Linked DNA regions of Homo sapiens. The protein of the gene in region 2 purifies or fractionates together with the protein of the main gene of each other region. This does not show direct contact. Each region holds a gene or a part of one and is shown on either strand. Other genes may lie near its edges.

The links. Proteins that work in one complex are often made in the same cells at the same time.
Region 1: the proteins of OLA1 (region 2) and ACAT2 fractionate together in Homo sapiens (co-fractionation; one large-scale study listed by BioGRID). This does not show direct contact.
Region 3: the proteins of OLA1 (region 2) and MORC2 fractionate together in Homo sapiens (co-fractionation; one large-scale study listed by BioGRID). This does not show direct contact.
Region 4: the proteins of OLA1 (region 2) and ASNS fractionate together in Homo sapiens (co-fractionation; one large-scale study listed by BioGRID). This does not show direct contact.

What each region holds. Positions count from the first base shown.
Region 1 is NC_000006.12:159,775,526-159,779,050, reverse strand, and holds part of ACAT2 (acetyl-CoA acetyltransferase, cytosolic), read right to left. Parts: intron 2,902-3,525; coding exon 2,779-2,901; intron 1,750-2,778; coding exon 1,595-1,749; intron 882-1,594; coding exon 771-881; intron 554-770; exon of another isoform or gene 393-553; coding exon 222-392; 3' UTR 7-221; coding exon of another isoform or gene 1-6. Other genes in the region: TCP1 (T-complex protein 1 subunit alpha), read left to right, coding at 1-6. UniProt on the Homo sapiens protein: Involved in the biosynthetic pathway of cholesterol.
Region 2 is NC_000002.12:174,074,740-174,077,557, forward strand, and holds part of OLA1 (obg-like ATPase 1), read right to left. Parts: intron 789-2,818; coding exon 687-788; 3' UTR 1-686. UniProt on the Homo sapiens protein: Hydrolyzes ATP, and can also hydrolyze GTP with lower efficiency. Has lower affinity for GTP.
Region 3 is NC_000022.11:30,965,969-30,969,926, reverse strand, and holds the start of MORC2 (ATPase MORC2), read left to right. Parts: upstream 1-1,152; 5' UTR 1,153-2,037; coding exon 2,038-2,105; exon of another isoform or gene 2,106-2,861; intron 2,862-3,958. Other genes in the region: TUG1 (taurine up-regulated 1), read right to left, coding at 109-570. UniProt on the Homo sapiens protein: Essential for epigenetic silencing by the HUSH (human silencing hub) complex. Recruited by HUSH to target site in heterochromatin, the ATPase activity and homodimerization are critical for HUSH-mediated silencing.
Region 4 is NC_000007.14:97,862,403-97,865,927, forward strand, and holds part of ASNS (asparagine synthetase [glutamine-hydrolyzing]), read right to left. Parts: intron 2,095-3,525; coding exon 1,857-2,094; intron 1-1,856.

The DNA of each region.
Region 1 (3,525 bases), on a different chromosome or scaffold from region 2:
GATTGATCTGATGTTCCTTTTATTTATAACAATGTTAAATGCAATTGTCTTGTACCTTGAGTTGAGTATTACACATTAAAGTAAAGTACAAGCTGTAAACTTGGGTTTTTGTGATGTAGGAAATGGTTTCCATCTGTACTTTGGTCCTCTGATTTCACATATTGCAACCTAGTACTTTATTAGTTTAAAAAGAAATTGAGGTTGTTCAAAGTTTAAGCAATTCATTCTCTCTGAACACACATTGCTATTCCCATCCCACCCCCAATGCACAGGGCTGCAACACCACGACTTCTGCCCATTCTCTCCAGTGTGTGTAACAGGGTCACAAGAATTCGACAGCCAGATGCTCCAAGAGGGTGGCCCAAGGCTATAGCCCCTCCTTCAATATTGACCTAACGGGGGAGAAAAGATTTAGATTGTTTATTCTTCTGTGGACACAGTTTAAAATCTTAAACTTGTCTTTTTCCTCTTAATGTATCAGCATGCTACCCTTTCAAACTCAAATTTTCATTTTAACTGCTTAGGAATAAATTTACACCTTTGTGAAAATTCATCCCTGCCTATCTTACCTCGTTCCTTTTATGCCAAGTAAGCCAATGTCTTTTTTTTTTTTTTTTTTTTTTTTTAAACCTTGGGAAGTAATGAACTCAGTCCTAGTAACTAGTATTTCTTTAACTATTACCCACATGGCCAACACCTAGAAGATACTATCTTAAAATTGGATTGTGAAATTCACTGGTAAGCTCTCAGGGTTACTTGTGCATCTTTACCTTCTCTGGGTTTAATCCAAGTTCTTTAACTATTGCAGCAGAGACAGCTGCAAAGGCTTCATTGATTTCAAATATGTCAACATCTTCCAGTGACCAACCTGCTTTTGTAACCTAGAGGAAAGATTCATAGAAAAGAGGTCTAAACTTGGGTGGAAAGGCTAAAGTTAAACCATTCTTTGTCAACATAAATATATGCTGCATGATACTGGTAACTGCTACTTTGGTTTGTTCTTAGGTTAATACAGTGACATTCTCACACATTTTTGCCTTAGTGACATCCATTCCATCCAAAAGGTTAAGGGTGTGATCTAAAAGATCCCTTAGAAATTCTAAATTGTCTTAAAATTTTGAACCAGTAGCATCTGTTATGTGTACCTAAGGCTAATGTAACAGAATCAGTTCCCCTAGAAAGCATGTGATCCAAATGCTCTCAGTGGCTGGGGGTAGTGGCTCACACCTGAAATCTCAACACTTGGGGAGCCTAAGGCAAGAGGATCAATTGAACTCAGGAGTTCAAAACCAGCCTGGGCGACATAGACCTTGTCTCTACGAAATGAAGAAGGCGTGGTGCACCTGTAGTTCGAGGTAATGGGAGGCTAAGGCAGGAGGAATATTTGAGCCTAGGAGTTTTGAGGCTGCAGTGAGCTATGATGGTGCCACTGCACTCCAGCCTGGACAACAGAGCAAGACCTTATCTCAAAAATAGAAATAAATGCTCTTGGTTACTCTTCTGGTAGGGAAAGACTAGAGCTAACTACATGAATAAGCTCACTTAAGGCTAACAGGAAGACAAATTTCATAAAAGGGAATAGGGTTATACTCACAGCTTGCTTTATGGCTGGAATTGGTCCTATTCCCATAATGGAAGGCTCCACACCCACTTGGGACCAGGAAACTATCCGTGCTAAAGGTGTAAGCCCACGTTTATCAGCTTCTGACTTCTTCATAAGAACGACAGCTGCAGCACCATCATTTATTCCTGTAAAATATGAGTGACTTAATTTCTACCATGCTTATTAACCTCAGTTACATATCTGTGGCTTCTTTACCACCTGAAGACATGAGTTAAATGATTTTACCTGTTGGCTAAGGCATTTACTATAATTCAACAGACTTTACATAGAAATTATGTTTGGCAATATATTGACCACAAAACTTTCCAACTAGAGAAAGTGGTAGGATTACAGTAGTCGGGGCTGGGCGTGGTGGCTCACGCCTGTAATCCCAGCACTTTGGGAGGTGGAGGAGGGTGAATCACCTGAGGTCAGGAGTTTGAGACCAGCCTGACCAATAGGGTGAAAGCCATCTCTACTTAAAATAGAAAAATCAGCCGGTGTGGTGGTGTGCGCCTGTAGTCCCAGCCACTCAGGAGGCTGAGACAGGAGAATTGCTTGAACCTGGGAGGCGGAGATTGCAGTGAGCCAAGATTGCACCACTGCACTCCAGCCTGGGCGACAGAGTGAGGCTCCGTCTCAAAAAGAAAAAAAAAGGATTACAGCAGTTGGGGAGGGGAGATCTCTGACAGGAAATGGAAGAATAAGCCTGGGCTTCACAAGGAGGTATTGGGAGTTTCTGGTACTGGAAAAATACAAAGGTAGATAAACTGAAGTTCCCTAATTTACTTCTTCATTTGTATGTCTAGTTGGGATGTCAAGAAACCAAATTAATTCTTTCAGTATAGGTTAAGTCAATGATCAAATACAGAGAAATGACATGTTTCCTTAAACTGTTTTAAGAATAATTTTGTACATAAATATTGAGTTGGGTGTGGTGGCTCATGCCTGTAGTCCCCCAGCTACTTGGGAGGTTAAGGCAGGGGGCTCACTTGAGCCCAGGAGTTTGAGGCTGCAAGTGAGCAATGATCATATTGCTGCACACGAACCTGGCTGGCAGAGTGAGTCCCTGTCCCAAAAAATAGTACTTTTGTATATAAATAAAGAGAAAAATATTCACTCGGTAGACATTATAGAACATAGTATTCCCCCAGATGTCCTTCAGAAAATCTAACCTGAAGCATTGGCTGGGGTGACTGTTCCCGTTCCATCAGTAAGAAAGTAAGGCTTTAGCTTGGACATGGCTTCTATGTTGCTCCCATGGCGAGGAAACTCATCTGTTTTAACTTCAATAAGACCTAAGCAAAGGAAAACCAATTACTCAAGATTAGTCCAGAGACAGAAGTAAGTGTGCTGGGAATGGTGGGTTCTCTGCCATTAAACATGAGGATTCATATTTAGCAGAAAAGTTTTAATATGTGACCACTTTGATGACAACAGGAGGAAAGTACACACAAGAATTATTGTACATGAAAACAATTTATGAGTATGTCCTTATGAGACACCTGTGTTTTCCAAATCCATAGGCCTTCCTGAGGAAAGTAGCTACCAGGGACCTGTTTGTGCCAAATTCTGCTATAGTTTGGGTCATAGTACTTGGCTGGTTACGAGTGAGTGGATCAGGCAGTCTCAAAGCCAATCGTGCACTGCTGGCAGGACATAAGAGATATCAGTTATCAATAAGGGAGCTTGACGGGAGCATTCTGTATTAGAAAATAGCGAGTGACCCCAAAAGATCCACCCTTTAGAAATGTGAAATGGAGATCACACAGAAACAGCGAGAAGTAATGGGTGTCCACTTCTGAGGAGGTTGAGCCTATACAGGAAACAGGTCAGCTGGTGCCTCCTAACAACCATGAGCCAGTGCTCCAGCTTCTCATGAAACCTGCTGTGTGTGCACAGTGGTCATGGACGCTCTGGAA
Region 2 (2,818 bases):
TCATATCCCTCATAATATCATTGCTATCATCTTTCAATAAATGTTGATCTATAAATTAATTAACTTTTTTGAGACAAATCCCTGGTATACTATTCTTCTGATTCCCATGAAAGACTCACTTTTAAGATACAATTGCAGCTGCCCCACACTGCCAGTTACTGTGTCATACACACGCCTTAAAATTCTGTAATCAGCAACCACCAGGTGCCGTATCGCATTCAGCACACCACAGTCAGTCAATACAGACATCCCCAAACACACCAAGGCTGGTTTTGTCAAATGTTTTATTGAGTGTAGACATCTGGAGTACTGTAAAACATGCATTATCTGTAGATTCAAAAAGGAGCAAGCCACATTGTCCTCACTGTCAAATGTGTCAGGCTTGGCATACATGATGGAGATTAATGAAGTATCATGAGAGTAATATGGTTCCTGAAAAGCTTCTACAATTTGGAGTAGGGTCTTAATCACGTGAAAAGCAAAGCTGTTCACATTTAGTGAACCTGCATTTCATGGGGGGGGGGGGGTACACAGTATTTTAATTTTAAAACAAATAAAAATAATTTGTTTGTCAAAGATTCCCATCTCCCCAACTTTATTTGTCGCATTGGTTTTCAGAAATTTTAATTTTTTAAAAATCAGATGCCTTTTGGAAGTTGTATGTTTATCTGAGCAATAACTAAATTTTATTTCTTCTTCGGTTGTTGAGGTGTGTTAAATTTGAAGAAGATAATATCTCCATCTTCAACAATATAATTTCTGCCTTGTTGTCTGTACTTTCCAGCAGCCTGCAAACAGAAAATATAGAGGAAATGGGTTATTAGTTTACAACTAAATACATGGGGTAAATGGTGGCAGCAGATATAAAAAGTATTATACTACTTGGGTGATATAAAAAAAGAAAAAATGAAATATAGGAAGGCATACAAGTTCAAAACTAGACTTGGAGAGAAGCAAAGTATTCTTGATTTGGGCAGAACTAGATTTTCCATATATACATAATCATAATGTATTCTCCACTAAATTGTTGGTACATAAATGTAATTATACCAATATCATTAAGTTTCATTACACGCTGTTTATGGTACATTTCTGATGTGTCTGCAAACATCCAGCAAGTCACTGTAACAAAACAGATCAAACCAGGCAGAAAGAAAAAGACTATATAACTAGTTAAAAGCTGCTTTATTTGCTTAAAGAAATCCTTTGGTGACACTGGTGATGCCAAAAATATAGTTGGTATAAGGAAAATTATGATCAGTTGTTGTGTAAGATTCTGAACTACTTCCTTGTAGTTTTTAAAATTTAGTCTTGACAATGTGTATACATAGAAGTATGTACTAGAATTCATCATACGGTTTCCTGACTAATGGCCCTAGTTACAAGGAGACTCTAACAGGTTGCAGTTGCAAAGACAGATATTTCTTCCACTTGTAAATTAGTCAGCAAAGCAACTGATTCCACCTGCTGGTATGCAGATCCAGACATGCAATCTGCTGGTAATTTTAATAGAAGCAAGCAGCAGTTCCAGAAAACCAGGTTTAGTCCATGGCATGAACTTTACTTTACCATAAGTAAAACAGGCTCTGCAGCACCCACACTTAACACTGCACACAGCTGACATGGTCCCACATGACCCCACCATCGACTCCTCAACAATAAGGACTTGAGGATCTTTTGGGGGAAATTCTCAAAAGTTTTTCCCTTCTGTTAGAATGTATTGAGAAGAAACCTTTGCCCAACAGGATTAGTGCTTCTCTTTGAAGATATTGATAAGAATGTTCAAAGCCAAGTGAAATTATACTAATCTGTAACAAAAACACTAATAAAGATCATACATCTGAGGGTAAAATCAACAAACCAGATTGCAGAGCCCTAGTAAGCATATTTTCAATTATCTAGACCACATATAAAACTGTCCTGATTTTAACAGAATATAAATATATGAAGAATATATAAAGCTTATTTCTAGAAAGCCAACGTAACGTACCCTACAATTAAAGGCATATGTGTGTGTGTGTATACATATATATTTATATTTATATATATTTCATATATATGACACATATGTGTGTGTGTATATATATAAAAATACATATTTTCACATGTTTTTATAAAGACATGCAATGTATTGAAGGCCATAAGCTACTTATTTCTAGAATCTATAGCCCACTGTTATAAAACTATATAGACAATATAAATCAAGTACATATTGACATGACATATTAATGTAACTTTATATACTTTGTTACCACTCAAGTTTACTATTAATTAAAAGTGACAGTGTTCCTTTAAATTCTCTAGAGACCATTTAATCCATTTCCACTGCTATCAGAAACACTGGTTGAAAAAAAAAATCAATACCCATTTGTGAATCTTGAGTATGTATTAAACAAGACACGTCTAACCAGTTCATTTGCACTTGAAAGCAGCCATCTGTAGAAGCCAGCTTTGCCTAAGCAGATATGATTGCTAATAATGTGATATCCCTGTAGACTACAAAGCCCACACAGAGCTATTCAGTATATAGTTCACAGCACTGGCATTAAATTAGTTATGCTGCACTGGTGTTAGAAATACATATACATACATACATACATACATACATACATACATACATACATACACACACATATACACAATTTTGCTCTCAAATCTAAAACCTACTTGATAATCTGCAAGTAAACATTTGTTGAATAAAGGAGCAGAGAGCAATTCCTAAATGCTTCATTTTACTTGGACTTCAAATTTTGAAATATTAGTTTTGGAGGTTAAAACAACGTAAAATATTTAATGGTATCCTAGGTGAAAATGTCAG
Region 3 (3,958 bases), on a different chromosome or scaffold from region 2:
TAAGGTCACTCCGCCAACTGGTGGCTAGGCCCGGAAGAAAACCCAGCTCTTCCGACTCCGGAGCTCGTCTCCCCACCCCGGGGCTGCCGCCAGAGCTCCCGCCCCTCACTAAGGCGGCATAAGGAGGAAAAGGCAAAGTAGAAATCCCACAACCAACCATCCTCCGGCCCCCTCCTGCCCCCCCAACTGGGTCCTTGCAGGCCCCGAAGGGTGGCGCCAGGCCTCCAAGCCGGCCCCGGCCACCCCCGCCTCCCCGGCCGCTCCAAATCCCGCGGCCGCTGCCGCCGCCGCCTCCCCCGGAGCGGGGCGGAGCAGCTGCCCGCCGCCGCCGACCACCCGGACGACTCCTCGTCGAATCGCAAACGCATAGGCCGCCGCCCGAGTTCTGCGTACGAGAAGAAAGACGCGGCGCGAGCGCCAACGGCCACCGGGCGCGCGCCGCGGCGGCCGGGCCTGCGCCCCAAGAGCTGGATGCCAGAGCAGGAGAAAGAGCCGCCAACCGATCGCTCGATCGACCGCACGCCCGTTCCTTCGCCCTACCAGACCCGGGAGGGGGGGAGGGCGCGCCAGGGCTTCTTCGATTTAGGGGCCTGACTCCCCGGCGACGAGACAAGATGGCTCCTCCGGTCCGCACCGCAGCTACCGTCCCGGCTGCGTCGCTCGGCCCGCCCCCGGTACTGTTTCTTTAAATGGCGGAGAGGGTCAGGAAAGCAGGAAGAGAGGCGCACGCTGTCACGTGACAGGGGCGGGACCGGCCAACCAAGATCCGGTCACATGGGGACACGCAGCCCGCCAATCAGGAGGCTGTACATCAGGGCGGGGGCGGGAGGAGCTGCAGCTTTGTGATTGGCTGAATGCTCCGCGGAGGCCTCGGGGGCTTGGGGCGTCGGGGAGTGTGCGAGGTGGCCGGGGCTGTGTGCACTATCGGAGACAAAGCGGTGGCTGTGGTGTCTGTGACGGCGGCGGCAGAGCAGCTCTAAACGCCGAATTTCGTGTTGCTGAATCCTGTCACCATCTCAACTAGCGCGGCGCGCGGGCGGCGCGCGGGCGGCGGCGGAGGCAGCGGCGGCGGCGGCGGAGGCGGCAGCAGCACATGGTTCCAAGAGCGCTCTGCGGCTGTTGGGTTCCAATTCCGCGGGGAGGGACAAAGGCAGTTGTGAGATCCGGGTAGTGCCCGGTCAGGTGGTGCGCTCGCCACTGCCCTCGATCCGGTCCTTGGAAGCCGGGAGTAGCTCCTCTTCGTGGGGAGGCGGCCACGGGACCGAGGCCCGGGAAGGGCCTGGGAGGCTGAGGCTGTTGTCTGAGGGACGTGGGGGCGGGGCGCGGCCTGCCCGAGGTGCTGTGGGCGGGTCATTTGTGAGGTGTTTATGTGGGCCAAGTGTGAGGTAATCTGACCACCACCCTGAACTGGGTTTGGTCCGGCTTTGAAAAAAGAAATCGTGAGTGCCTAGGAGCTTTTTCACTTGGGAGGTGGTGAAGCTGCAACTTGCGCCATATAACACTCCGTCGACATCTTGGTCTCCGGTCTTGGGCCTGTTTAAGAATCCTGGCATCACGTGTGGCGAAGACATGGCTGATCAGTTTTCTGACAGAAGTGGGTAAATTTCCGCGTTGGTAAATTTCCTGACAGGAAATTTCGGGGAACCAAAAAAGGCTGGAAGAACATGAAGATGGAGCAGTCATAAACCACCCACTCAAGGACCATCTCCTTCAGGACCATCCACACGAGACTCAGATTGTCTGAATTGAGCTATCGCAACTTAATGCTAAAAGCTCCTTAAAGCTACAGATTTATGACATAGTTCCTTCCAAAATATTACATCATAAATCATTGAGAAGATTAAAAAAAAACACTTGAAGAAATTGTAGTTTTAAACATCTCTGCATATATTTTGGATAGCTACTAGGTTACTTTAACTGTCATTAAGGAGCACAGACTTACTGAAGCTTTACTGGACAGAATCCTGGGAAATCGATATCATTATAAGGTTATATTTCCCAGTTAGCGGGTGAAGGGCTGGAGACCTTATTGCAGTCATGGCTTTCACAAATTACAGCAGTCTGAATCGAGCTCAGCTAACCTTTGAATATCTGCACACAAATTCGTAAGTATCCTCTAGGTGCCACTGAGGTAACCAGTAACTCGTTCCTTGATATTATATGGAAATCGTTTCCCCAGAAAATTTTGCTTTTTCACTTTTTGAGATGTATCCCACTGGAGTGAAATGTGTCACTGGATATCTTGAGCTCTGTATTGAAGAACTGAGATCAGTGAAATACTTGTTGCTAATCCAGAAGAATCTGATTTTTGTTTATTGGATCAAAATTTTCTAAATGCAAACTTTAGTTATTTGAAGTCAATATGTTGAGTTGTTTCATTCAAGTGTTTATAGGAATCCAACAAATACTGCTCTATTGGATCGCCAAATGTTGGACTATTTTAGTATCAACCGTTTCCCCTCTGTAGTGACAACGTCCTAAACAGTTAGGTTTATAACAAGTGTTTACTTTCTAACAAGAAAACAGAAGACATTTAAATGACAACTTTCAAGAAGAAAATTTTTATTTTTTCAGAAGTTGGCATTATCTTCCTGGCAGATTGCTCACATCCAATATTATTTGTATATGCTAAACAGGAAACGGCAACTTGTTTATATCTCTATTTAGATAGTCTTTCCCCAAAATTTCCACAGAAACATACAGTGTTCATGGTTCTTGAGTTCATGAAGGAGTAATCTAATCACTCCAACATGGTCTGGAATGTTTCAGGTTTAATCCATATGCCCACTCTCTTGGAGGCTGTCCAGTAGCGTCAAAACTTTAGTGTTTTAATACATTCACCTGTTACTTTTGAGATGAAGGTAAGTGTTCTAACATTCTAGTACCTGGAGAGGAGATGAGCAGCTACATGAATGGTCCAGTCTCTGAAGAACCCACTTCAGAGTCGAGAGTATAGACTTCCATTATGTAGTAATAGTACAATGGTTTTTAGCTTTTGATGGAGAAGACAACATGTTTGTGATATCATAATGTCTGTAATATTTCTATTTTTCCTTTAAAGGGAATAAAATTTTGCCAAGTAGTGAAGCAAACTGTCAAATGGTGAAAGCCTGTTTTTATTTTTTTTAGGAAGTTTGTTATTTTTTTGAGAGACGGAGTCTTGCTCTGTTGCTCAGGCTAGAGTGGGGTGGCGCAATCTTGGCTCACTGCAACCTTCACCTCCCAGGTTCAAACGATTCTCCTGCCTCAGCTTCCCAAGTAGCTGGGACTACAGGCATGCACCACCACGCCCAGCTAATTTTTGTATTTTTTTAGAGAGACGGGGTTTCACTATATGTTGGCCAGGCTGGTCCCGAACTCCTGACTTCAGGTGATCCACCCACCTTGGCCTCCCAAAGTGCTGGGATTACAGGCATGAGCCACCATGGCCGGCCTGTAGCAGTCACCTAGGTTGAATTCTAACACTTAAGTATGATGACCCTGAAACACACTTGGGTGAGGTTGCTGATTAGTGATTATTCAGCTAGTTGATAGCATAGCCTTGGGAAAAAACTTTAGTGTCCTTTTTAATGTTTGAACTGCCATATTAAGAACAAGCAGTTGAAGGCCACTTAAATGTTCATGGATGACTGTGTTTGATAAATGGTTATCTCAGCTCTGAATTTTGGAATGATGGTAAGTCTGGAATTACAGATTTTATGATAATCTTGGAAGACCATGAACTGGACTTCAGAATTTCAGTTCTTGTTCCAGCTTCACCAAAGACTTTATGGGATAATAATAGTAACAACAGTTAATTGCTTCATATCAGTCACTATTTTAAACATTGTCCAAAGCAATCTTTACAGGAAGCCTTTGGGATAAGGATTATTCCTATTTTGCATTTGAGGAAACTGAGGTTCAAAGAGATTAAATTACATGGTAATGGCTATATAGCTGCCAAGTGGCAGACTTAAAC
Region 4 (3,525 bases), on a different chromosome or scaffold from region 2:
AAGGCAAAGTGAGAGAGAAAGCAAAAAGATCAGTAATGACTGGGGGGTTAGGAGGAAGAGGACGGGAGGAAAGAATAAGTGGAGCACAGGAGATTTTTAGGGCAATGAAACTGTTCTACATAATACTGTAATGGTGGGTACATGGCATTAAACATTTGTCAAATCCAAAAATCTATAAAACACAAAGAGTGAACCCTTATGTAAACTATGAACTTCAGTTAATATATAAGTATCAGTTCATCAAATCTAATAAATGTAGCACAGTAATGCAAGATGTTAAGAGTGGGGAAAACTGGGCAGGGGCACTGTAGGGGGAGCATATGTGAACTCTCTGCACTTTCCTCTCAATTTTTTCTAAAACTGCTCAAAAAAAAAAATAAAGTCTATTATGTTTTTAAAATAAAATGATCCCTAACAGGAAAAAAAAATGGCAAAGGATCTGAACAAATATTTCTCCAAAGAAGATATACAAATGGCCAATAAGCATAAGATAAGATGCTGGACATCACTGTCAACAGGAAAATACAAATCAAAATCACAATGAGATACCACTTCACATACACTAGAATGGCTAGAATTAAAGTCACACACTGTTTGTGAAGATGTGGAGAAACAGAAATTTTAATACACTGCTGGAGTGAATAAAAAATGATGCAGCCATTTCAAAAATTAGTCTGGCAGTTCTTCAACTGAACATAGTTATCATGTGTCCCAGCAATTCTACTCCTAGATATACACCCAAGGGAAATGTCCACACAAAAACTTGTACACCAATGTTTATAGCAGCATTATTCATAATAGCCAAAAGGGGTAAATAATGTCCTAAATGTCCATCAACTGACAAGCGAATAAACAAAATGCAGTGTATCCATGTAATGGAATATCATTTGGCCATAAGAAGTAAGTACTGATACATGCTACGGCATAGACAAATCTTGAAAGCACTATACCAAGTGAAAGAATCCAGTCACAAAAGCCGGTATGATATATAATCCCGTTCATATGAAACATACAGAATAGGGAATCCAGAGGCAGAAAGACTGGTGATTGCCGGGGCTACAACTGCAGGGGTGCAGCTGATGGATATGGAGAGATGGAATTCAAAGCTAAAGGGCACAGGAGGCAGGGTGTTGTGGTGCATGCCTATACTCCTAGCTACTAGGGAGGCTGAGGTGGGAGAATCGCTTGAGCCCACGAGTTCAAGGCTGCACTGAGCTATCAAACCACCGCACTCCAGCCTGGGCTGGGCGACTGAGCAAGACCCCATCTCTTCAAACAAACAAACAAACAAAAACCTAGTTGATCCTGCCAGCAAAAACTAAGGTAAAGGGCATAGGATTTGATTTGGTTTTTTTTGAGGTGGAAAAACAATCCTAAAACTGATTGGAGTGTTGTTTACCAACATCTGTGAATATACTAAAAACCACTGAACTGTATACTTCAAGTGGGTGAATTACATGGTATGTGAATTATCAATAAAGCTGTTTTAGAAATCCTAACACTTGCTGTGCTATAACTGCGCAAAGTACCACAATGCAATAATTGCAGAGTCAACCCTACGATTATAGTATGACACAGGAAAACTTAAAACTGCACTTAAGATCAAGCTAGATGTAGAGCATATTAGCACAGCAAAAAATAAACGACTGCACTAAAGAATCATCCTTCAAGGATTACAGAATTTAAGTGCTGAAAAGGAGAGTACAACTCCTCTGTTTTTTTAAAAAAAGGTAAAGACTCATAACTTAGTCACTTGTAAAATTCTGGATTGCTCTCTAAGAGATTTTCAAATATAATTTAAAAGAAAACGTACAACCAAGACAATAATGAAAATCTATAGAAAAATTTATTATTACCTTTAGCTTCTGAACATACAGCCAAAAATCCATCTTCTGTCATTGCTTTAAACAAAGGTCTGACTCCATATGTATCTCTACCCAGGAACACTTTCTTATTGGCAGTATCCAGTAAAACAAATGCAAACACACCATCCAACATACAAATTGTTTGCTCAATTCCTCCTTTGTCATAAAGATGAAGGATTATCTCACCATCCACTTTGGTCTGGTATTCAAATTCAAAATGCTGTTGCATCTTAGGAAGCGAAAGCAAAACCAAAATGTTAGACTCCTTGTACATTCACTAATAATTTTTTATTGCAAAGATGCTTCAGTATTTCTGAGCTCTATAATCCTTTCATGCACTTTGGTGATTTAGGAGAATCACAGCATTATTAAACTATGGTTCGCTTCAACTCATATTCTGCAAATTCTGTTCAACATAAAGCCGAACCCATGAAAATTTTAGTTGCAGTCTGATAAACAGAACATAATGGGAATGTGCCAGAACAGTAACCTGTGGAGGGATGGAAATGTATATTATATACATACCATATATGTAATACATACATATATTTATATATATACAGATTGAGTATCCCTTATCTGAAATGTTTGGAACCAGAAGTGTTTTGTGTTTTGGACTTTGGAATATTTGCATATATGTGAGATATCTTGGGCATGAGACCCAAGTCTAAACATGAACTTCATTTATGTTTCATATATCTTATACACAAAACCTAAAGGTAATTTTATATAATATTTCAAATAATTTTGTGCATGAAACAAAGTTTGCATACATGGAACCATCAGAAAGCAAAGGGGTCACTATCTCAGCTACCATGTGGAAAATCTGTGGCTGTTTGACATCATTGACCATCATTCCTGACTCTGAATTTATTATGCTGCTGATGAGCAATCATTTTCATATGCTTATAAAATATGACATACCATTAATACAGTAAGAAAGTAATAAGTAGCATAGTAGAATCACCAGAATACCTGCATCAGCTGTTAAACAGCTGTACAAACAATGGCAGGCTTTCAGACTCCACCTACAATGCTGCGTTTTGATTAAAAGGTTACTATACACTGTATTTTTTTTTCCTTTTTCAGGTGAGAAGAAACATCAGAAGCAGCTGAGCAACTAGGAAGCGGGTCCTCTGAGATTGAAGAGGCATTCGGCCAGATGACTTTTAAATGTTTCTCCAGAGTCATCTGCTTCATTAACAATGGCTTTTGTCTTGGAAGGCTCTCTTTGATTTTATAAACTGACATGACCTCTTGTTCTGTTATGAATGCAGGTAGCTCTAGTCCTTCAATATCTCTATCACACATTTTCACCATGTCATCTATACCTTTATACTACAGTCCAGTTTCTCCTACAGCTTGACTTTCTGTGTTATAAGTGTTTCTACTTTTCCTTATCACTGCTGCTCATAGAAATATCTACAGGTCTTTTTGACATTTTCAGTATCTTAACACCACAGAGCAGAAAATAAGCAAAAATACACAATGGATAATGCACATAAGTCCCATCTGTGGGGATCCTGCCAATGGCGTATCCAGCTTGAACATGTGCCATTCTATTACCCTTTGTGGGCGTGCTTGCATGGGGAAATCCGGGCATGTGTAGAAAAGTTATACTGCAGCTGAAGCGGGCTGAGAGGGTCTTTTTTCCCTAGGG